Linked DNA regions of Homo sapiens. The protein of the gene in region 7 purifies or fractionates together with the protein of the main gene of each other region. This does not show direct contact. Each region holds a gene or a part of one and is shown on either strand. Other genes may lie near its edges. The genes, in order: NUMA1, ZFHX3, ADNP2, USP36, SMARCC1, SMARCE1 and CHD4.

Evidence for each region.
Region 1: the proteins of CHD4 (region 7) and NUMA1 purify together in Homo sapiens (affinity purification with mass spectrometry; 3 studies listed by BioGRID and IntAct, with this or other methods). This does not show direct contact.
Region 2: the proteins of CHD4 (region 7) and ZFHX3 purify together in Homo sapiens (affinity purification with mass spectrometry, with the first as the bait; 3 studies listed by BioGRID). This does not show direct contact.
Region 3: the proteins of CHD4 (region 7) and ADNP2 purify together in Homo sapiens (affinity purification with mass spectrometry; 3 studies listed by BioGRID and IntAct, with this or other methods). This does not show direct contact.
Region 4: the proteins of CHD4 (region 7) and USP36 purify together in Homo sapiens (affinity purification with mass spectrometry; 3 studies listed by BioGRID and IntAct, with this or other methods). This does not show direct contact.
Region 5: the proteins of CHD4 (region 7) and SMARCC1 purify together in Homo sapiens (affinity purification with western blotting; 6 studies listed by BioGRID, with this or other methods). This does not show direct contact.
Region 6: the proteins of CHD4 (region 7) and SMARCE1 purify together in Homo sapiens (affinity purification with western blotting; 3 studies listed by BioGRID, with this or other methods). This does not show direct contact.

The regions. Positions count from the first base shown.
Region 1 is NC_000011.10:72,007,543-72,011,042, forward strand, and holds part of NUMA1 (nuclear mitotic apparatus protein 1), read right to left. Parts: intron 3,313-3,500; coding exon 3,244-3,312; intron 1,846-3,243; coding exon 1,726-1,845; intron 1,644-1,725; coding exon 1,425-1,643; intron 1,304-1,424; coding exon 1,146-1,303; intron 659-1,145; exon of another isoform or gene 604-658; coding exon of another isoform or gene 550-603; exon of another isoform or gene 1-549. UniProt on the Homo sapiens protein: Microtubule (MT)-binding protein that plays a role in the formation and maintenance of the spindle poles and the alignement and the segregation of chromosomes during mitotic cell division.
Region 2 is NC_000016.10:72,793,129-72,796,628, forward strand, and holds part of ZFHX3 (zinc finger homeobox protein 3), read right to left. Parts: coding exon 127-3,500; intron 1-126.
Region 3 is NC_000018.10:80,126,262-80,129,761, reverse strand, and holds part of ADNP2 (activity-dependent neuroprotector homeobox protein 2), read right to left. Parts: intron 1-3,500. UniProt on the Homo sapiens protein: May be involved in transcriptional regulation. May play a role in neuronal function; perhaps involved in protection of brain tissues from oxidative stress. May be involved in erythroid differentiation.
Region 4 is NC_000017.11:78,802,815-78,806,314, reverse strand, and holds part of USP36 (ubiquitin carboxyl-terminal hydrolase 36), read left to right. Parts: coding exon of another isoform or gene 1-28; coding exon 29-159; intron 160-2,336; coding exon 2,337-2,930; intron 2,931-3,459; coding exon of another isoform or gene 3,460-3,500. UniProt on the Homo sapiens protein: Deubiquitinase essential for the regulation of nucleolar structure and function. Required for cell and organism viability.
Region 5 is NC_000003.12:47,587,332-47,589,893, reverse strand, and holds part of SMARCC1 (SWI/SNF complex subunit SMARCC1), read left to right. Parts: intron 1-1,587; coding exon 1,588-1,685; 3' UTR 1,686-2,562. UniProt on the Homo sapiens protein: Involved in transcriptional activation and repression of select genes by chromatin remodeling (alteration of DNA-nucleosome topology).
Region 6 is NC_000017.11:40,630,819-40,634,318, forward strand, and holds part of SMARCE1 (SWI/SNF-related matrix-associated actin-dependent regulator of chromatin subfamily E member 1), read right to left. Parts: intron 1,550-3,500; coding exon 1,377-1,549; intron 876-1,376; coding exon 774-875; intron 107-773; coding exon 1-106. UniProt on the Homo sapiens protein: Involved in transcriptional activation and repression of select genes by chromatin remodeling (alteration of DNA-nucleosome topology).
Region 7 is NC_000012.12:6,572,981-6,576,379, forward strand, and holds part of CHD4 (chromodomain-helicase-DNA-binding protein 4), read right to left. Parts: intron 290-3,399; coding exon 94-289; coding exon of another isoform or gene 91-93; intron 1-90. UniProt on the Homo sapiens protein: ATP-dependent chromatin-remodeling factor that binds and distorts nucleosomal DNA. Acts as a component of the histone deacetylase NuRD complex which participates in the remodeling of chromatin.

The DNA.
Region 1 (3,500 bases), on a different chromosome or scaffold from region 7:
CAAGCAGCCCATCTCTCTGATTTTTCAGAGGTACCAAGGAAAGCACTTGACCTGGGCCTTCCTTTCAGTCCACTCCCCTGGCTTCTCCTAATAGCTCCTCATAGTGGCAATGCCCAGACCCAGATGTCCCATCCCCACCAGATGCCCATGGCTGCTTCACAGCAAACACGTCCCAATCTAAGCCCACTTCTCTGTTCTTCCTCCTGCATCTCCCATTTCAGTGAATAGGAACGCCCCCCACTCAGGCCCCCAAGCCATGAACGTGGGCATAATCCAATGTCGTCCTGCTTGGCGAGCCCAATCACCAAGCTTCCTGAACAGCTCCTAACCACACCCCACTCCATGCTCATGTCCTTTCCCTGGTCTGCTTCATCTCCTCTCACCTAGACTCATCATGGCACTGACAGAGGAAGATGAGTGGTGACAAGCCAAGAACTCAGGCCAGGCTGCCCAGGGTCAAACCCCAGCTCTACCACTGGGGAACCTTGGGCAAGTGACTGCCCCTCTATGCCCCAGATTCATCTGTTAAAGGAGACAGAATAAACCTACCTCAGAGGGTTGTTGGGGGACAAATCAGGTATAATTGTCATGAGTGCTTTATGTCTAGCACAAAATAAGTAAATGTAAGTGTTTAATAAAAACATTTTTCCAGTCTTAACTTCTATACTAGCTATTAGAATAATCTTTTTAAGATGCAAATTAACCATGTACTCTTCAGTTTCAAATTCTTCCAAGGTTCCTTTTTTTTTCTCCTAAACCTTTCAATTACAGCCACCAAGGTTTCCTCAATGCCTTTAGGATCAAGTCTTAATAGTCGGTCTCCAATGGGCCTTCCTGGCCTCACATCTCAGCTTAGTCAGGCTCTTTCACAGCCTCTGTTCACACTGCTCTTCTCGTCAACCTGGCACACACACCTATGGATGCTTTCAAGACTCAGCAGGAGCGATAGCTTCCACGAAGCCTTTCTTGACCACTTGCTTTTTATTCCAACTGTGCCCTAAATAGATATCTGGTATAATACCCGTTTTTCGTTATTCTTCTCTAAGAATAAATTTAGATCACATCTTATTTATCTCACTAGGATACAGCCTGATAAACAGCAGGCACTCCATAAACAGACATAGGGAGGAAGGCTGCCTCCTGACCTGGTGATACTGAGTGGGGTCCCCTCCTCGCAGCTCAGATCCAGGCTGTCAATACTCAAGTCCAGCTGGGGCTTAGCCTGGGGCTCACGGCTCTTTAAAGCATCAGTTGCCACCTGGAATTTGCCCAGGTCTCGAAGCTGCTGGTCTGCATGGGCAACCTGAGAAGGAGAGGGCCAGGGGGAGAGTGAAGAAAAGCCTAAGGCAGCAGTGGCCTAGGAGGAGAGGGCACAGGGGTCCAGTGGAATAGGAGTGAGGTGAGTCTGCCAGCCAAATTCTTACCTGTGCCTCCAGGCTGCGCACCTGGGCAGTAAGGTGGCGGCAGGTCTGTTCAGCCTCCTTGGTCTTCAGCCCAGCCTGCTGTAGCTCATGGCCCAGCCGTTCAGCTTCAGCTCGCAGCTCTTTGTTTTCCTTCTGCAGCTGCTCCAGGCTCCGCAGCTGCTCCTGCAGCTCTTGGTTCTGCTGCTTCTTGGCATCATAATGTGTTTTGGCTTTCTCCATCTGTGGGCAGAGAGGGTGGGTGGGTGGGGTAGAGGTTGAAGGGCAGGAGGAAGGTGGCATGGGCTGGGGCTGGGCTCCTTACCTGCAGCTTATAGTGCTCAGCTGCCTGCTCCTTCTGGCTCAACTGGGCTTGCAGTTCATTCAGCTGGGCCTGGAGGCGCTGGGCCTCCTGCTGGCTCTCGCCTCCCTGAGCCTGGACAGCCTGAGAAGAAAGGCCACTCAGGAAAGCTGGTCTGGCCGCTCTACCCAAGTCCGCTTATCTGCACCAGCCACTGGGGCTCCACAGGTGCTTCAGACTCCTGCACTTTCTTAGGAAGCGGAAGAAAACCACACCACCCCAAATACTCTCTGCCCGACTACAGTCTACTAAACCTGAAGCCCACATGCCCTTCAGTCCACATCCGTAGTGGCCTTTCCCTGACCAGCTCCTGCCCTATCTTTGCCTTCTTTGAGACCAGACACAAAGTGTCACACCCTCTTTGCATGCACAATCTCCCGTAGGAGGAAGGGAACCAATCCTCAGGGAACACCCAGGTGCAGAGCCTTACTCTAAGGCACTTGGCATGTGAGCTCTCTTAGGACAGGGGAACTTGTTTCTCCTCAAAGCCACTCTGAGAAGTCACTTCACCCTCTTTTCAGAGGAGGAAACTGAGTTCAGAGATTTAAGCAAATTGACCAGAGTAACAGTGACTAAATGGCAGAGTAAGATTTGGTCCACCTAACTCCAAAAGCCCATGGGGGCTTATTTATGATGCCCACACTGCCTCCTGTCCAGACCATAACTCCTTAAGAGCAGGGCCTGATTCTCTGTCCATCTGCAAGGCCAACAAGTGCTTTGCTGTAGATAGAAGCATCCCCCCTTTGCCTCTCCTAACATAGGACAGGCCCCACAAGGAGTAGAATAAACATTTGTTTATTGCAATCAAGACATGCTGTGGCACCATGGTATGAAGGTGAGCAGGAGAAATGAAGCTCTGAGCTCCCAACAACTCCTAGGAGCCACCAGGGCTTTAGTGAGTCCCAATGCCACTGGTGCCCAATTCCTTTGCCCCTGACTGAAGGCTGTGAAGCCTAGAACTGCAAAAAGCAAGTATTAAACCAAAGAAGGTGACACAGTTGAAAGCATTAAGAATGTTATTAAACTGCACTGTAATATTCAACACTGGTGACACTCTCGTTCTTTCCCTGCCCAGACTATCTAGACTTACATTGTCCAAAAGAACTTTATGCAATGGTGGAATGTTCTGTATCTGCGCTGTCCAATACAGCAGCCACTAACCACATGTAGCTACTGAACAGGGGCACAGTGTAGCTAGTGTGATTGAAGAACTGGATTTACTTTAATAAATTTCAATAACCACACGTGACTAGTAGCTGCTGAAGTGGACAGTGACAGTTGAGAGATGGGAACCACCCTGGTTGTCTCTCGAGAGCTCCCAGAAGACACATGCAGGGGCTTCTAAGCCACAGGCTTCCTAGGAGGGCTACCTGGAATGCAGGGTGCCCCTCTTCTGCCCCGACACCCCCCACGGCCCCAGAGCTTAGAGAATAGCTTCCCTCCCTTGTCCAGAGGCCAGACCCATTCCCCCAGCTGCCCCACCTTCAGCTTCTGCTGCTGCACCTTGCTGGCTTGGTCAGAGTCAGCCAGTTTCTTACTCAGTTCTTCCACCTGGGGAGGGAAGAGGAGGACAGAAGACTCAGGAGGACTTCCCCTGGATGTTCATCCTGGATGTCCACCCATCATGGGGTTTCCCAGACCAGGATCCCCAGTGTTCCTAGAATAAACTCAGGCCCTTTCTCTGGCCTCCAATTACGGAACAGCCTGCTGCCCAGGCTGCTTGGCAGGGCCTGAATGAG
Region 2 (3,500 bases), on a different chromosome or scaffold from region 7:
TTAAAGAACTAGAAAGGTAAGCTTCCCATCTGCCCAGCACTCAGAGGGTTTGGGTGGTATCCACATAACAGAATGCTGACTGGGCAGCTATTTAGCCCTGAAACAATCGCCTAGAGCAGAACCCACCTGTGTTGGATGGAGTAAAGCCTGGCAAGGAGGGGCTGTTGAGGCCCGGGAGCAACACAGGAGGAATGCCCTGGAGCGCTGGATATGCTGTAGGAAGGTTAAGGGCCTGAAGAGGGGTGTTGTCAAACATCCCTTGCTGCTGAGCTGCCAGTCCAAGGACCTCGTTGGCCTTTTTAATCCGGTCCAACTCTTGTTGAGCCATCAACTGACGTACGGTGGCTGGGTCAAAGTATTCTTTCTCCTTGTCCAGCTGGCTTCCAATGGTGTCTTTAACTTTGGAGATATGCTGTTGGGAAAAGATATGGTCACGTACAGACAGCCGAGCGCTGTACTTGATGCCACACAAAGTGCACTCTGTTTTGGGTCCCTCATAACTCGTTTGGTTTATACCAAAATGCTTGGCCATGCTTAACTTGGACTTCTTTTCTTTTGCCCGGGCATTCTGGAACCAGACCTGAACGACTCTCTTTGGCAGTCCAATGTCATTGCCCAGGACCTCACATTCTAGCATAGTGGGTGTCCTGTAGTCATTAAAGCATGACTTGAGGACCTTCAGCTGCAGATTGGTCATTTGAGTGCGAAAACGTTTCTGCCCAGGCCGATCTCCGCTGTCACCAGATTTGCCTGCAGATCCACTCGCACCAGGACTCGGGGAGCAGGGATCTGCAAGGCTTGAGGTTTCACTGTAGTCCACTGTACCTTCATTGTCATATTCCTTGCTATAAAAGCTCGGGGCCGGGCTGACCAGACCAGATGACAACCGATCTTCATACTCAGACATTGCCATCATGGCCGCTTTGGTCAACCCTTCGTTGGGTGCAGAAGAGGATTTGGTTTCAGTTGCTATTCCCGTTGCACTGTCGTTATCTGCGTTGCCCTCGTCTCCAGTTGTGGTATCTGTGATTGCTGTGTTGACAGAGGAACAGTCATCGTTGTCCAGCTTAGTTTGGTCAAAGTTTAGATTAACTGAGGACATGGAGGGGCTTTCAAAGTCTTCAATCCCTTCCACCTTAATGGAGGAAGGGCTTAGAAGAGTTCTGGGTGACAATTCCATGGTTTTACTCACAGGTGAGAGGGGGACACCCTGACCATCACTACTGCTTGGGGGTAGGTGGGAAAAGCTAGTTCCGTCAAAAATATCTCCTTTCATCTGGAGTCCCCCATCACAGTCTAAGAGCATCGCAGACAGAGTTAGGTTGTAGCCAGCTCTCTTGGCTTCATGCCAGTGACGGGACCGGATATGAGCCTCAAGAGCAGTCTTGGCTTTGAAGAGCGCTCTGCAAAAAGGGCATCTCCTGTGGGCCTGCGCTGGGCCTACAGCCCGGAACTGTCCTTTCCTTTCCCGAGCTCGGGTGTTCTGAAACCAGACTTGTACCACACGTTTCTTCAAGCCCACCTCGTGTGCAATGTGATCCAACATCTTTCGAGTCGGATTGGAATCCAGTAGATACTTCTGGTAGAGAATTTCTAGTTGTTCCGGTGTGATGGTTGTTCTCAAACGCTTGTCTCTCTGAGGCTCTTCTCCTCCTGTCCCACTGTCGTTTTCGCCAGGGCTTGCACTGGCCTTTTCCTCCAGCTTCCTCTTGAGAGTGTTCATTGTGGAGGTTGGAGTTGAAGGAGAAGTGGCTGAGCTTGCTGGAATCTGAGGTATGGCCCCAGAGAGCAGCTGGCTGGCCAGGAGTGGGTTACTGGGATCAAAGAGCATGAAAGGCATATCCAGGGACCTGTCCAAAAACTGGGGGTGGATGAACTGGTTCTGCGCGCTCAGGAAGTGGAGCTGCTGATGCTCCTGCCAGTGCTCAAATGACGGAAATGCCAACTTACACTGGTCACACTGGTAGGGGATTAGCTGAGGAGGTAGGTTTGCGAGCTGTTGAGGAGTTGATGTGTGGAGGGGCTTGAGGGGCAGGTGGGAGAGCTGGGAAGGACTGGGGCTCGACTGGGGTAAGGGGCACTGTGGAGGGGGCGCTTGTGGAGGAGGCTGTGGCAACGAAGGCAGGGACACCAGCTGGGGGAGCTTCTGCTGGGGAGTGTTGGTCTTCTGCTCGGGCTGCTCTTGCTGCTGCAGCTCTGGCTTTGGTTGTCCTTGCTTTTCTTGGGTTTGGTTTGGCTGTGCACTGGGAGCTTCCGCCAGCTTTGGTTTCTCATCGCCTGCCTCTGTTTTTGAATTGAAGGTGGCCAGTTCCTCAGCCTCCGCTGTAAGCTGCAAGAAAGCGGAGGAAGCTGTATTATTGGCTGATGGTGCTGGGGCGCTGTAAGCCTGTGAGGGCATCGGGGTACTGCAGGATGAGCTGGTAGGCGTCAGGATTTCCATGGCATCCATGGAATCCTCATTTTGGCTGTCGTCCTGCCCCTCCTCATCCTCATCCTTGTAACACAGCTTCTTCTGGTGCTTGATGAGATCAAAGATGCGCTGAAACACCAGGCTACATTTTTTGCACTGGTAGTTCAAGTTGCTTGTTCGAATGTATCTATCATTTGTAAGCTCACGCCGCTCTCCATCTTTGCCCTCTCCCTGATTCTCATAATTCTTCCTGGCCTTCTGTCGGGCATTCTGAAACCACACCACTATCACTCGGGTTGGAAGGTTCAGTAAATTAGAGAGTTGCTCAAATTCATCATCCTTTGGGTAAGCATTGGCATCGAAGAAGTCCTGTAAGACCCTCAGCTGGTAGTCCGTAAACCTTGTTCTTGAAGACCTCTTGCTTCCCCAGTACTCCTGCTTTGGAGGTTCCGGCGAAGGGGGCCGGGAGTCAATCTTGAGCTCCTCCAGGCTGGTGATAGGAGGATTACTGAAGTTGTAAGGGGAGTCCTTGTTACGCTGCCTCTCTTTGAAGAGAGTGTTCCTGAACCAGTGCTTGATCACTTTCTGGGGCAACCCGGACTTGTCTGCCATCTCTTTTATTTGCTCTTCACTGGGGGAGTTGTTAATGTCAAAATATTGCCGCAAGACTCGGAGCTGATCATCTGTGATCCTGGTGCGAGGCCTCTTGTTCTGCTGCTGGAGCAGGGTTGGATTGAGCTGATGCTGGTAGAGTTGGGCCAGGTCCGCAGGCAGAGGCTCCACAGGTCCCAGCTGCGGGGGTAGCTGAGCCGGCAAGGTCTGCAGCGGCATCGTCTGCATCATCAGCGGCGAGAAGATGGGCAGCTCCATCGGCATGGAGAGCTGGGTGAGCGGCACTGATGGCTGGGCCGGTGCAATTGTAGGTGAGGTGATGGGTGGGGCTGATGCGGGGATGGCTGGTGTGGACGCCGGCTGAGGCGGCGCTGCCGGAAGTGGGGGTGGAGGGGGTGGAGGGGGAGGTGGTGGTGGCTCTGGGGTCTGGGGCCTCAGTGGGTACAGTTTATCGTAGTGGTCTCTGTACTGTTTGGCA
Region 3 (3,500 bases), on a different chromosome or scaffold from region 7:
ATGCACACAAAGACCAGACTGCCATCTATTGTATTGAAGCAACAAAATATGACTGGGGTCCCTGAAGTGACACAAGAAGCATAGAACATCATATATATTCTAGCCCAAAATGTTTAACTTGAATCAACTGGGCCTTTCAGTAGAACTTCTCATTTAAAAGAAGCTCAGGGGACAGGGGACTAAGCTGAAACAACACTATAAGAAAGTACCAGACACATCTGGAAGGAGGGGCATCTCTGCAGGACAAGAGGCTGGTCTGGCCAACAGTCAGGGAAAGCACTGCAAACCCAACCACTAGATGTAACAGGGTCCACAACAAATCCTGGCTTACATAAACCGAGTGTAAAAAATGTTCTGGGGGTCGGGTGTGGTGGCTCACACTTGTAATCCCAGCACTTTGGGAGGCTGAGGTGGCTGGATCATCTGAGGTCTGGAGTTTGAGACCAGCCTGGCCACATGGTGAAACCCCATCTCTACTAAAAATACAAAAACTAGCTGGGCGTGGTGGCGGGTGCTCGTAATCCCAGCTACATGGGAGGCTGAGGCAGGAGAATTGCTTGAACCAGGGAGGCAGAGCTTGCAGTGAGCCGAGATCTCACCACTGCACTGCAGCCTGGAAGACAGAGCGAGACCCCATCTCAAAAAAAAAAAAAAAACAAAAAAAAAGTTCTGGGTAAAACTGAAGAAATCTGAGTATGGACTGCATATTAAATAAGGTGAATATGTAATACATGACAAGACAGAACAGAGAAAAGTGAAAAAAGCAAGTGGTAAAATAGCTAATCAATACAATCTCATGGTAAGAACAATAAACACACAGAAACAGCTAACAATACGATGTTAATGGTGGCAACTTCTGAATGACAGAAATGTGGCATTTTAAATTTCATTTTCTAATTAGAAACGGTTACCTGCATTTTCAAACATTCATAGATTACAGTATTATTTTTATAACAATGATTACTTTAAAAAAAAAGCTACAGAAAAATAGTTAATACAATTACCTTTAACTCTACGCTAGTATGTAGCTTACCAAGTCAATTCAGAACTAACAAGAAAAAGACAAGTTATTACAAATATTTCTTTATTTTTATTTATTTATTTCTTTTTTTGAGACGGGGTCTTGCTCTGTCGCCCAGGCTGGAGTGCAGTGGTGCAATCTCGGCTCACTGCCGCCTCCACCTCCCGTGTTCAACCAATTCTCCTGCCTAAGCCTCCCCACTAGCTGGGACTACAGGCACATGCCACCACGTCGGGCTAATTTTTGTATTTTTAGTAGAGACGGGGTTTCACCATGTTGGCCAGGCTGGTCTCAATCTCCTGACCTCGTGATCCATCCACCTCGGCCTCCCAAAGTGCTGGGGTTACAGGTATGAGCCACCGCACCTGGCCAAGTTATTACAAAGATTTCTACTGAAAATTAGGTTATTTTCAGAACTATCTTAAAAGATAAAGTATACAACACACAGGTCCTTTATTCTGATTCCAACAAAGAGCAAACATATCTGAAACAAACAGAAATAAGCATAAACACTAGGAAACACAAAGGAACTGTCAGTACATCTTCAAAACCAGCACACACAAGAATCTAAGCCCAATTAAAAGATGCTGCTAGAGCAGCAGAAATGAATAAAGAAGGCTGGAATTAACAAGAGCCCCACAGTAATTATGAAGTCATTATCACCTGATAGAAAGCAAGAATTCACTATTTCAAAATAGACAAAAGAAGTAAGCTACTATTAAAAAGGGGCATCCTGCCATATTGACCTTGTGATAAATTTGCACAGGGTCTCCTGAAGACTTTTTCTGAGCACTGAGGCTCTCATGTGTGAGAAAACCAGTGGGACTTTTCTACTGGCTCACTAGTGGGAACTAGTGAAAGGAGAAGGTAAAACAACTATCAAAATGCCAGAGTCCACCGGGAGAGGGGAATGACCCCTTAATACAGTGACATAAGTCAAGCCTTCACAGCAAGGTCTGTCTCCACAGTCCCAGGCTCTCCAGACCCACTCTAGCAATGCTTAAAAATTCCAAGTGTCTTAAACATGTTCTAGAACAAAGCCCAAATATATTTAAAGGAAACAACAAACTCTAGCACCCATAAACACAATGTCCAGTGTGTAGTCAAAAACTGCCAGTCAAAAAACAAAAAACAAAAACTTCCAGTCATACAAAGCAGCAGAAAAATATGACCCCAAACCAGGAGAACAACATGAACGCAACGAGAGAAGTGAAAGAAAGTGAAAGATGGATGGTAAATTGCACTTCCATGAATGAAAAATGCACTAACATGAAAAATATACTGCATGGGATTAAGAGCAGATTAGATGCTGCCGAAGAAAAGACTGGTAAATCTGAAGATAAAGCAAGAGAAATACACAAAATGAAAGAGGGAATGGTTAAAAAAAAAAAAAAAAAAAAACTGAAAAAACCCCAACAACGGCATCAATGAGCTATGGGACAGTATCAAGGAGCCTAATATACAGGAGTCCCCCCTTATCTGCAAAGGACATGTTCCAAGACCCCAGTGGATGCTGACACTGTGGACAGTGCCAAACGCTACATATACTACGTTTTTTCCTATACAGACATACCTACAATAAAATACAACTTATAAATTAGATTTGGTACAGGAAGTTGGTACACGAAGATATTAACAACAATAATAAACTAGAACAATTGTAACAATATACAGTAATAAAAGTTTTGTGAATGTGGTCTCTCAAAGTATCTTACATCCTGTGCTCACCCTTCTTGTGGTGGCATGCGATGACACGATGCCTGTGTGGCGCCTCACGTGACAAGATGAAGACAACTCAGAATGCCATGGAACTTAAAACAGATGAATTGTTTATTTCTGGAATTTTCCATATAATATTTTCAAACCGTGGTTGACTGTGGAGAGCAAAACTGAGGATACGGGGGAACTACTGTGTGTGTAATTGAGTATCAGGGACAAACGGGTGAGGGGAAGAAAAACTAGTTGAAGAAATGATGCCACAAAATTTTCCAAATCTGATGAGAACTATAAACCCACAAAATCAAGAAGCTCACCAGACTCTAAGCAAAAGACACACAAAGAAAACCAAACCAAGGCACATTATAGTCAAAGTATTAAAAATACAGAGAGGAACAAAAATGACAGAAAACATATTGTTGGAAAAAATGCCAGCCAGAAGACAAGAGTGAAATCTTTAAAATATAAAAAGGGGAAAAAAATAGCATTCCACACCTAGCAAAAATCTCTTCCTTCCTAAAAGACAACTTTTTTTTAGAGAGAAAGTATAGTGAGTTAATTAAGCACATCAGCACTACAAAATATGAAGTCCTTCAGGAGGCAGAGGAAATGACTCGAGATGGAAATACACATCTACGCAAAGGGATGAAGACTATCATCAATGACATGTAGATCAATATAATTTTTTTCTTTTTTACAGTTTAAAATAAAAGTAACAACATATTGTAAGATTTCTAACATGTGGAAGAAAAAATGTATAACA
Region 4 (3,500 bases), on a different chromosome or scaffold from region 7:
AAGTTTTTATTTATGTCGATAACTGCAGGCCAGCACCCTGTGGAGGGCGACCGGCAATGACCTCCGTCCACCTCCCCCCTCACCATCCTCCGACCTCACCCACCCCATGAAAACCTCTCACCCCGTCGTTGCCTCCACTTGGCCCGTCCATAGAGCCAGGTAAGCTTTGGGCCGGGATCTTCTGGGTGCCAACTGGTTCTCCCTGTGGTTGCGTGTGCTTGGCTGGTGAGGAGTTGGACGAATCGCCAACCTCACAGGACAGACAAAGCATTGGGGCAGCCAGGAGGTACAGGGGGGCGTCACTGACCAAGATCCCCCTCTTCTGTGTTCCCCTGTGGTAAAGGAGCTTTGGGTGGTGAAGGCAGTTCGGCCTCTGCAGTCCTGATGTCTTAGTTCTGTCTTTGTTGGTGGTCTGTCTGCGACATCCTTGTGGTGATGTGGTGTGCTGGGGACTGACCTGTCCTGTATCCCTACCAGCCCCATGACAGTACTTCCCAGTCGAAGAGAAAGGCGAAGTGAGGCCTTGGCGAGAGGCTTGAGTGAGCTCGGAGTCCCGAGCGTTTTTTGTGGGACGTCTTGCCTGCTAGCGTCATGCAGGTTAAGAACTGTCTCAGGGCTCTCGGGTTCCTCTGCAGACACCTGCCAGAGATGCAGCCCCTTCCCTGTGCATGTGGGCCCTGGTCCGCAGGGGCTGCCTGCGTCTCTTAGGTGCCTCGAGTGGCAGGAAGTTGAGAGTAACTGGTAAATGGCTGTCTGGAAGCCGCTGGGAGTGGGGACGGAAGCAGTGAAAGATGGGGTGAGTCATGAGGCGGCCTGCGGGGACTGTACTGGTGGCCTCGGCGCTGGGTTCTAGTTCTAGAATCTCCAGTGCTACATGAGGGCGAGGTATGACTGTGCGTCGCCCACAGCCTCTGCCTTACTCTCCTCTCACATATACACACACAAGCACACCTCTGCCCTATACCTAGCATAAGATTTGTGTACGTGGGAGGGCCTTAAGTGTTTGGGTGTTTTTCGTTTCTTGCCTTATAAGCTTTTTTGGAAAAGATTCCAGAAGACACTTAGAGTAATCAAACATCGTGCAGCTGGCATGGCCCTTATAGTTTGTTTAGATGATGACGGGGGTCCTGTTTTCTGCAGGAACCCTGGGAGGTGGGCTTTGTGGTCCCAGCTCATTGACAAATGAGAACATGGTGGTTCAGAGTGGGAAGTTAATTTTCCTAGAGACACATAGCTGGCAAGAGGGAGCCTCACTGGGTTCGGCACTAGATCCTGTCCCGGACACGCCTTGCTCATGATTCTGCTCTACGCATCTGTGTCCCGGTTTCAGCGTCCTAATGACGGTAATGTGGAGGTGTCATTAGGCCAGCTCAACACTTGCTTTCCTTATGAGGCTCATTTCCTGCCCGGGAACACCCTGAGACTTTCGGAGGTTGGAAAATAAATCCTCACGGGATCTTTTTTTTCCTTACCATTTATTGTTTCGTGAAGGTTTCCTCCCTTAACACATTTGTATTAAAGATGTTTTTACATTAGAGCTCGCAAAAATACTTGAATTGCTTGGTGACAAGAAACTAAGGCATGGAACAATTCTTATTAACTTTGCCTTTTAAAAAAAAAAAAATTTTTTTTTTGACTTTTAAAATCACGTGTTGGCTTGCTTTTTTTTTTTTTTTTTTTTTTTTTTTTAAATCTCAGGGATCAGTTATTTTAAGTTCCAGGGTACATGTGCAGGATGTAAAGGTTTGTTACAGAGGTGCCATGGTGGTTTGCTGCACCTATCAACCCACCACCTAGGTAACTTTGTTTTTTTTTTTTTGTTTTTGTTTTTGTTTTTTTGGTTTTTTTTTTTTTTGAGACGGAGTCTTGCTTTGTCGCCCAGGCTGGAGTGCAGTGGCGCGATTCGGCTCACTGCAACCTCCACCTCCCAGGTTCAAGCGATTCTCCTGCCTCAGTCTCCTGACTAGCTGAGATTACAGGCGTGTGCCACCACGCCCGGCTAATTTTGTATTTTTAGTAGAGATGGGGTTTCACCATGTTGGCTAGGCTGGTCTCAAACTTCTGACCTCAGGTGATCCAGCCACCTTGGCTTCCCAAAGTGCTGGAATTATAGGCATGAGCCACTGTACCTGGCCAACTTTGCATTTAAATAGATGTTGAATTAATTGTTAGCTTTCTTTCAAACATACATGTAACTTAATGTGTATCTGAAAACTACAGGGTAAAAGCCTTTTCAGATTTTTAGGTGAAAGGGAGGGGAGTGAGGGTAGACAGAAGGAACAGCTCTGCTGGGTCTTTCAGAACATCCTCTCCCTGTTTCCTGGCTGTCCCCACAGGGCTGTGTCACCTGCTCCCCAATCATCCAGCCGCCTGCAACCCCCCTTCAGCCCCCACCCCACATTGCTGTCCAGTACCCCCAAGCCCCCAGGGACGTCAGAACCACGGAGCTGCTCCTCCATCTCGACGGCGCTGCCTCAGGTCAACGAGGACCTTGTGTCTCTTCCACACCAGTTGCCAGAGGCCAGTGAGCCCCCCCAGAGCCCCTCTGAGAAGAGGAAAAAGACCTTTGTGGGAGAGCCGCAGAGGCTGGGCTCAGAGACGCGCCTCCCACAGCACATCAGGGAGGCCACTGCGGCTCCCCACGGGAAGAGGAAGAGGAAGAAGAAGAAGCGCCCGGAGGACACAGCTGCCAGCGCCCTGCAGGAGGGGCAGACACAGAGACAGCCTGGGAGCCCCATGTACAGGAGGGAGGGCCAGGCACAGCTGCCCGCTGTCAGACGGCAGGAAGATGGCACACAGCCACAGGTGAATGGCCAGCAGGTGGGATGTGTTACGGACGGCCACCACGCGAGCAGCAGGAAGCGGAGGAGGAAAGGAGCAGAAGGTCTTGGTGAAGAAGGCGGCCTGCACCAGGACCCACTTCGGCACAGGTAAGGGCAGGAGCAAAGTGGCATCTGTCTACCTCTGACGAGAAACAAAGCAAAACCACAGAATCTACCCCCAAGTAGGTATGGTCTGGAAACGTAGTCTGCTTGCGTGGTTTTCTAAAATGTGGATTTGTGATCAGATGTCTCCTCTGGCTGGGTGTGGTGGCTCACACCTGTAATCCTAGCACTTTGGGAGGCTGAGGCGGGTGGATCACTTCAACCCAGGAGTTTGAGACCAGCCTAGGCAATATGGAAAAGCCCTTTCTCTACCAAAAACAAAAATTGGTTGGGCATGGTGGCATGCACCTATAGTCCCAGCTACTCAGGAGGCTGAGGTGGGAGGATGGTTTGAGCCCAGGAGGTGGAGGTTGCAGTGAGCTGAGATCGCGTCACTGCACTACAGCCTGGGTGACAGCTAAACCCTGTCTAAAAAAAAAGAAAAAAGAAAAAATATCTCCTCTGATAAATACCAGTGGATTGATCCTTGAAGCGACAGTGGTGTGGACAGTAGTGTCCATCATTGTATGTGCAGGGCCGTTCAAGGATGCTGGATCAGGTGTCCCGGGCCAGGCC
Region 5 (2,562 bases), on a different chromosome or scaffold from region 7:
GGCCAAAAGTTTAGCTACTATTTATAGTTCAGAGAGATAGGAAGCATAAGAATTCTTGCTCTGTAGGAGCTTTAGTTGAGAAAACAAGAAATGAAAACTTGGATAGAACTTAGCAAATGAAGGCATATAGAACTTACCAAAGGTTACATGAGACTGTGATGTGCCTTAAGTACACTCTAATACTCTGGGAGGCTTCATGGACAGAGACATGTCTGACTCTTCTCTGGCCCCCAGAGTCTGGGACAAAGTAGGTGCACAGAAGAAAGACACTAATTTATCTAGGTATATAAGATCACAACAACTTTTTAAAATTATCTCCCTTAAGCTAGTGGTCAGTGGTTGTGTAGTACAGTAGGTACCTCTTTTTCTTGGCAAGAAAATGTTTGCCAAGCCACCCTGTGGACCATACATAAATGAGCTCGCCTATCAAGAGAGTTGACCAGTTTTCCATCCCTATTGCAGAGGTAGTATCACTGGTCTTTACCAATTTACCACTGTCATGTCCTGCTGGTCACCCATGTTTTGTACTTCAGGATTCCTTCCCAAAGGGACCTCAGTAGAGCTCCTTGAGAATGTGGAGGGTTTCAGGTGGAACCTTCCCACCTGCTGCCTGGTTCCTGCCATAAGTCAGTGCTCTGGAATTCTGAACCATGTGAATTGGTTCTAGGATACTAGGTAGGCCACACTGGATGAGTTGCTTCTCCACTTCAGCCCTTCATTTCCTCCACTGAAAGATGACACAAGGGATTAGATCAGTGAGCTTCAGAATGCTTTCAAGAGTCTTAAGGGTTTGGTAGAAACCTCTTGGGCATAGAGTTGGGTGAATTGATTGGTGAGCAATGCTGCACTTTATTTCATATGTTTTCAATTCTGACAAGATCTAGGGGTTTTTAAAACCCGGATTAAATGATCTCTCGGGTTCTTTTGTACACTAAAGCAGGTAAAGTTGAAATAGGAAAGAGTCCCAGACACTCATACTAATTGTTCCCTTCAGGACATGACCTAGTTTGGGCCAAAAATCGAAGGACTGCAGTTCAGGAGCTGTGGAGGCCTCCCTGGACTATCCAGTTTGTCAGCAACTGCCTCAAGTGAAGCTCTCTGGCCCTGGTGGAGACATTTATATAGCAAGAATTTATTGATAATCTATTTTGTGCCCAGCTAGGCTAGGGACTGTGGGGGCGGGGGGGGGGCGGGAAGAAAAACAAGACATAGAACTGTCCCAGGAAGGAGCTTATTTTTTAACTGAAGAAATAAAATTAGAACCCTTGAAATACAATGCAATCAAAATTAACTTCTGAAAGGGCCTGGAGCGATTCTTGGAAGGAGTTGGCCTGGAAGGAGGGTGGGGGAAATTCAGACACCTCCCACTCCCCAGCCACTAGGGTTAGGCTAAGCAACTTGAGCAGTGCCCTAGAGGTTCAGAAGGAATTGACTTGCATAGACCACAGTGGAATCAATGCCTCACAGGGTGCATTGGTTGCCTGCCACTAAGGAAAGGACTTCTGTGTCTTTTTTTCACTGAATAGGCTCTTTCCTGAGTCTCTTGTATTTCCAGCAATAACGAGTTACTCTTGGATATGTTTGCAGATCCCCCTCCACCACAGCAGCAGCCACCGCCACCACCACCTGCAGATGGGGTCCCTCCGCCTCCTGCTCCTGGCCCGCCAGCCTCAGCTGCTCCTTAGCCTGGAAGATGCAGGGAACCTCCACGCCCACCACCATGAGCTGGAGTGGGGATGACAAGACTTGTGTTCCTCAACTTTCTTGGGTTTCTTTCAGGATTTTTCTTCTCACAGCTCCAAGCACGTGTCCCGTGCCTCCCCACTCCTCTTACCACCCCTCTCTCTGACACTTTTTGTGTTGGGTCCTCAGCCAACACTCAAGGGGAAACCTGTAGTGACAGTGTGCCCTGGTCATCCTTAAAATAACCTGCATCTCCCCTGTCCTGGTGTGGGAGTAAGCTGACAGTTTCTCTGCAGGTCCTGTCAACTTTAGCATGCTATGTCTTTACCATTTTTGCTCTCTTGCAGTTTTTTGCTTTGTCTTATGCTTCTATGGATAATGCTATATAATCATTATCTTTTTATCTTTCTGTTATTATTGTTTTAAAGGAGAGCATCCTAAGTTAATAGGAACCAAAAAATAATGATGGGCAGAAGGGGGGGAATAGCCACAGGGGACAAACCTTAAGGCATTATAAGTGACCTTATTTCTGCTTTTCTGAGCTAAGAATGGTGCTGATGGTAAAGTTTGAGACTTTTGCCACACACAAATTTGTGAAAATTAAACGAGATGTGGAAGGAGAACCTCAGTGATTTTATTCCCTAGTGAGGCCTCTGAGGGCCTCCACACTGCCTGGCAGAACATACCACTGAACTAGTATGTGCTAGAGGAGGGCACAAACATCCGCTCCTTCCCTAGGCCTGCTGGCTCTGGTTTTCTATGCAGATGATTCATTGGATTGGGGGTGAGTGTTTTGTTTTTCTGGGGGCAGTGTGAGCTTTGAGGGTTGGAATATTGGGAGGCATTCCTTAGTTTCCTCAACTAGCCTGGAAAGTTAGG
Region 6 (3,500 bases), on a different chromosome or scaffold from region 7:
CGGCCTCCTTCTCCCTTTCCTCCTGCCTTTTGCGGGCCTGTTCCTCTGCCTGTGCAATCTCAGCTGCAATTTTCTCCATATCCACTTCTACTTTCAGACCGCACAACTAATCAGAAAAAAACAGAACTCCGTAATGTTTTTTCCTTATAATTTTTGAGCCAGATATATTCTTTCAAAAGTTGGTTTTCTTGCCTATAAACTATATATATATATCTATACACCTGTATGTGTGTGTGTGTGTGCCAAAAAAATGTGGTTCTAGGTCTTCTCTGAAACTCTTGGGTCTACAAGAAAAAACAGCAGCTCTAGCAGTTGTATAATATAGGATATTCCAGAGCAGCTGGTGAGGCAAAATAGTGAAAGTTCTGGGGTATACATAAGGCTTCCGTTTTACATTTTGGGCTACCAACTAGATTTCCTTGTCTGAATGCAAAGTGCAAATTATAAATTACATTTAATGACGACATTTGATGAATAAATCACAATAAAATGAAAGTAATTAATGACTGTATGGGAGTTTAACATATCAGAGGGCTCTAGCATTTACAGGCCTAGAAGATATGTGTATACTCTATGATATTTCAAATTTATTGCAATTTTGCCAGAGAATGGGAACAATCTTATAAAAAAAGGATCCTACAGGTTTATAATAAAGTTAGCCCTGTTTCAAAGTGAACAACATTCAATAAAAACACTATTTTGGAAAAAAGAATGAGGAAAAATAAAGTAACAGGTATAGTGATAAAAGTATAGTTAACATATTAAACAGATACCCTTTTAAGTTCATTGTTAAATGAATCTGTGCTTTCCAGGAATTTCCTCTTCTTCTCCTGGTGTCGTTCCTCTATTTGAAGAAGTTCAGCTTCTAGTTTTCGCTGCAAGACAGGATCAGGCTTCATAATTGTGTCTCATTTTTTAATGGTCCATACTTTCAAACAGTGTACCAAATAATGTTTTGAACTTTAGATCATTTATCACATGAGTCTAGCTAAGATTTAAAAAATACAAAATGCAGCACAAAGAAATGATTATGATCAATAGGTAAATGTTAAAGAATACTGTTTCAGGCCTGAGCAATTCCTTGGGAAAAAATATTTAGCATAGCAGTAAAGATTGATAGGATGCCTCAAAATTCTTAAGTTCACACGTATTTCTTAACGAATATACTTTCCATTACAAGGTTCTATATTATAGTTTTTAATGACAAACTTATTAAACATCTGGGAAAGGTCCACTTCCTTAAACCTCTTCTCCAAATCAGGAACAGGTTAGATTGACATATTTAACAGGTAGATTTAGGCATGGTGTAGGAATCATATCACCTGGGATTTGTGGTATAGGCACATCTTATTGAAATGAATGTTTTATGACTTTACCTGATGAACCATTAAGGACTGGACCTGCCGTTTGAGGACCTGCATTCTAGCTGTTGTGACAACTGACCGAACGTCTGGCACCACACTCTCACTAAGAATTTCACTGATGAGGCGGTGGTTTCTCTGGAAACGGGCGGTGGCTGTATGCTTCATTGAAAAGCCATCATCATAATCTGGAGTGAACAAATTGTTCTGGAAATCAGGTCACCAGTAACCATAAAAAGGAGTGTAACAATGTTAACACTTAATTACCAACGAACTATGGCCCTCACTGGCCTAACAAGTGGACCTGCCCAGCGTCATGGGAGCACTGGGGCAGTTACTTGATAAAAACCATACAGAGGACGTAATGTGTTCATTGGCCAAGGTAGTAATTTATCTCACAGTCTTTAAGTGATAATGTTGTGTCTGAGAAGGATTTGGCTAAAACATAAACGAGATACAACATGTCTCTTCTGGCTTCGGAATCAATGTGAAGGCTGTATGTGATGGCAGTAATTGAAATTCTGCCCAATGTTTCACTCTCTTGGTAGTAACTTAAGGCATTTAACAACTAATGAACAACATATGAACTGGGCAGTGACTTTGTCACTTGTAGCACTTTAAAAATGAATGAAAATGCCCATTTGTAAAATTATGACAGCAGAGAATACATCACCTCTAACAATATTCAGTTTCCCAGGCCCTCAAGTAATTTTATAGAAGAAAAATAAATGTCTGATTCCAAATTTAATTTTTGTCAGTTTACACTTAGCCAGCTGTTGTCAGTGTGTAATGGTATGACCCAAGTTCATACAGTATGGGTCTGGTTTATATGCTTCTGTTTCGTTTTGAGACAGAATCTCCCTCTTGTTACCCAGGCTGGAGTACAGTGGCCCAGTCTCAGCTCACTGCAACCTCCACCTGCCAGGTTCAAGTGATTCTTGTGCCTCGGCCTCCCAAGTAGCAGGAATTACAGGCGCATGACACCACGCCCGGCCAATTTTTGTATTTTTAGTAGAGATGGGATTTCACCATGTTGGCTAGGGTGGTCTTGAACTCCTGACCCCATGTGATCTGCCCATCCTGGCCTCCCAAAGCGCTGGGATTACAGGTGTGAGCCACTGCACACACACTACAGGCTTATTTTTAATAGCTATCTAGTGTTTCCTTAATCTCAGTCTTTGCTCTATCACCTTCATAGTTTTTCATATATCTACTAACAGCCTGTACTATCGTTTACTTAATATTTTTCTTTAAACTAACTCACTTAAAAAAAAAAAGAGCTTTCTCTTTAGTAATACATATTAAAACAAACGCTCCTCTCTGAACCACTTAATCACCTCAGTGACCCACCAGACAGGGAGGAACCACACTTAAGAAAACCTTGTTACAGGGGAAACCCTGTTACAGAGGCCTATGTTGCGCTGCTATGTCAGTTTAGCACCTCCCTTATTGTCTGGCACTTAAGTAGTTCCTAAAATTCTCATTATTATAAATACTACAGCTAAAAACTGTTGTTTTTGTAAAAAGTTAAAAAAATTACTTTTGTTTCCTTTTGAGTAATTTCTTTAGGAAATAAACTTCTGAAATTAAAACTACTGGGTAAGATACAGTTTTTTTAAAACTCTGTAACCTTTCTACTTTTTAAGAGTTTTTCACCTTTAGGGTTATATATGGTACATCTGTGCTACATCTGTCTAAGTTATCTGTTTTTGTTGTTAGCTTTTGTTTTCTTCTTTCATTTATATGGCCCCAGTGTTGACCACAGATGGGGACATAAGGTCTAAGCAATTTGGGCTTGTTCTTCTTTGCATGTTAGTCGTCTGCTTCCTTTTTTGGGGGAATGGCTTCTCTGGTTATGATCTAATTGAACAGCTATTTATCCTATGATGAAGAGGCTCTCACTGAATAAAAGCCTTCATTGTCTTGTGTGGATAATTGCACATGCCCTCTTTTTTTTTTCTTTTTTTTGAGACTGGTTATTGCCCTGTCATCCAGGATGGAGGACAGTGGCATGATCATAGCTCACTGCAGCCTTGAACTCCTGGGCTCAACTGATCCTCCTACCTCAGCCTCAGCTGGAGTAGCTGGGACTACAGGCACAAGCCGCCATGCCCAGCTAATTTTTAAGTATCCTGTAGA
Region 7 (3,399 bases):
AGCTCTGAAAGTTTGAAAACAAATATATGTACATTAGGATGCAGTCAGATCAGGGAGGCCGAATCGGCAGGAGGCAGGGGAGCCACTGGCTACCTTTGTGCAGGACTGCATTGGCTGGCTTGTTTCCTGCCATTGACTCCTTGGACAGGTGCTGATGACTTTCCGCCAAACACTCCACCTCAGCAAAGCGGGTGTTGAGGGCCATGGAAGGGTGAGAAGGGTCTTCTGACATGTTCAAGTAAGCAGCCCGGCGCAGCTGTTCCTCAATCACCAGAGCTTGTTCTAAGAGCTGGACAAGGGATAAGAGGAAACGGGAGTTCGACTGATAACTCACTTTACTCACTTCTGACTGGCCTCTCAGCTCACCTCTCATTGTTTCAGATGGTAATAAGAACCTATGAAGAACTTCATGGACAGCTCATTCCCACACCCAAGTAGTTTAACTTTGCCTTGTAACTTTTTTCTTTCCCTTTTTCAATGTCCTCATTTTTAAAACTCTTTACCCTTTAGGTTCTCTTATACAAAAGCGATAAAAACTCAATTTAGAAAATAGAATATCAAAAATTTTTAACAACAGATAATCCCACCTTCTAGAAATACATCCTGATATTTTTCTTTTTAGGTTTTTTTGTGCATAGTTTTTTACATAACTGAGATCATACTATATACATACCCATATTATGTTTTCATTTAGTTACACAGTTAAGCATCTTCCTTTTTATCATCTACTCTTTATCAACTACTCTTCAAAAACATGTTTTGGCTGGGCACGGTGGCTCACACCTGTAATCCCAGCACTTTGGGAGGCTGAGGCGGGCAGATTACTTGAGGTCAGGAGTTCAAGACCAGCCTGGCCAACATGACAAAACCCCGTCTCTACTAAAAACACAAAAATTAGCCAGGTATGGTAGTGCGCACCTGTAACTGCAGCTACTCAAGAGGTTGAGGCAGAAGAATGCTTGAACCCGGGAGGCAAAGGTTGCAGTGAGCCAGGATCGCGCCACTACACTCCAGCCTGAGTGACAGAGGGAAACTGTCTCAAAAAAAAAGGGGTTATTTTGCTATTTAAAAATATTTTTGTTTTTTATTTCCTCTTATCGCCATCTCACTCCCATTCCTCTGAAAAGCAACTTTTCTAATGTAGTAATACTGTGGCTTTTTGTGTAGGTTTTTAAAAACTGTTTCTGTTTCCTATGTATGTTTCTAAGTTACAGAATGATGTTTTCTGTATCTATAAAATGCTTTTTCTTCTCCCACTACATACCTTTTAAAAGGTACTCTTATGTTGTATGCACATGAATTTTGTTGCTTCTGTTGTTTAATGCCCCATGATATGAATACATGTTTCACCTATGCATTCTCCTAATGCTGAACATTTATGTTGCCTCTAGGCCCCCACCACCAAAAATCATACTGCAAAAACACTCATGCACATGTCATCTGATGGAGCTGTATTAAAGATTCTTTGAAATATATCCCAAGAGGCAGAATGTTGGTTCTTAATTTATGAAAAGATTTTAATTACTTAAAAAATATATTCATAAAACATATGACTCAACATAAGAGAAGATTTCTCATACCCTTCTCCTCTCCTAGTGTCAGCCAGCAGTTCTATGCAGATGATTTGATGCTTCTCAAACATGTACCTTCAGCACTGGTTCTGATCCCACTAGTGTATGGTGATGGGGGTCGGTAGTGGGAGGGGTGCTGATTTGTGAGAAATACCAAAAGACTTGTCTAAAATTCGATATCATTCTTTTCTACAAACTGCTCCCTCTCTTCTTAAATGACAATTTAACTTTCTCAGTGACTCAGGCTCAAAATGTTATTTTCAGTCTCACTCATTCTGTACCTCAAATCCAGTAAGTCAGGAGTTGGCAAGCTACAGCCTGTGGGCCAGATCTGCCCCACCACCTGTTTTTATATGGCTCAAGAGCTAAGAATGGGTTTTACATTTTAAAATGGTTGGCAAAAAGTCAAAACAAGACTATTTCATGCCACTTCATGAGAATTATACAAAATTCAAATTGTAATATCCATAGATGAAACGCTGAAACACATCCTAACTTATTCATTTATGTATCCCCTGTGGCTGCTTTCACACAACAAAGATGGAGTTGAGTATATGCAACAGAGACTACATGTCCCACAAAGGGACTATCTGGCCCTTTAATAGAAAAGGTGTGGTTGGGTGCAGTGGCTCACACTTGTAATCCCAGCACTTTGGGAGGACAAGGCGGGCAGATCACCTGAGGTCCAGAATTTGAGACCAGCCTGGCCAATATGGCAAAACCCCATCTCTACTAAAAATACAAAAATTAGTCAGGCATGGTGGTACATGCCTGTAATCCCACCTACTTAGGAGGCTGAGGCAGGAGAATCGGTTGAAGCCAGGAGGCAGAGGGTGCAGTGAGCCAGGAAATGTCGCCACTGCACTCCAGCCTGGGCAACTGAGTAAGACTTTGTCTCAAAAAAAAAAAAAAAAAAAGGGTTTTATTAACCGTTTTTGGTTTGGGGGGAGAAAAAAAGGTTTGCTGACCCCTACAGTAAGTCACTAAGTCCAATAAATTCTTTGGTGTTGTTTCCTTTATCTTTACCCTTTTCATTTTCCACAACCAGCATCACAGCCCAGACCCTTAACACCTCATGATTATATGACAGTTTTATAATCTTATGAATGCTGTTTCCATTTCCCTTGGTCCTATCAAAACTCTGCTCACAAACTTTCAGTGGCTGCCCATTAACGATAGCGTAAAGTCCAAACTCTCTTATCTGGTGCCAAGAACCCACCTACTGACCTCTAGCCCGTCCACCTTTCTCGTTCCAACCTACCTCCCACCATCACCCAACACAAATGTTTCCCTACAGCTCAACTGGGCTATCTGCTATTTCCAGACATACTAAGCTTTGCTGGCTCACATCTTTGCCCAACCTAATCCCTTTGTTCAGATACCCTTCTGTTTCTACCAAAAAAATCTCCGTCGCATTCTTCAAAACTTCATTCCAATGCCATCTTCTCCATAAAGCCATTTGTGAGTTCCGTCCCTACTCCAATTCCCTCTCGAGAACTTTTTTTTTTTTTTAAGACAGGGTCTTGGATGGGCACAGTGGCTCACGCCTGTTATCTCAGCACTTTGGGAGTCCGAGGCGGGCAGAACATGAGGTCAAGAGATCGAGACCATCCTGGCCAACATGCTGAAACCCTGTCTCTACTAAAAATACAAAAATTAGCTGGGCGTGGTGGCACACGCCTGTTGTCCCAGCTACTCGGGAGGCTGAGGCAGGAAAATCGCTTGAACCCGGGAGGCAGAGGTTGCAGTGAGCAGAGATCTTGCCACTGCACTCCAGCCTGGCAACACATCAAGACACTGTCTCAGGAAAAAACAAAACAAAACAGGG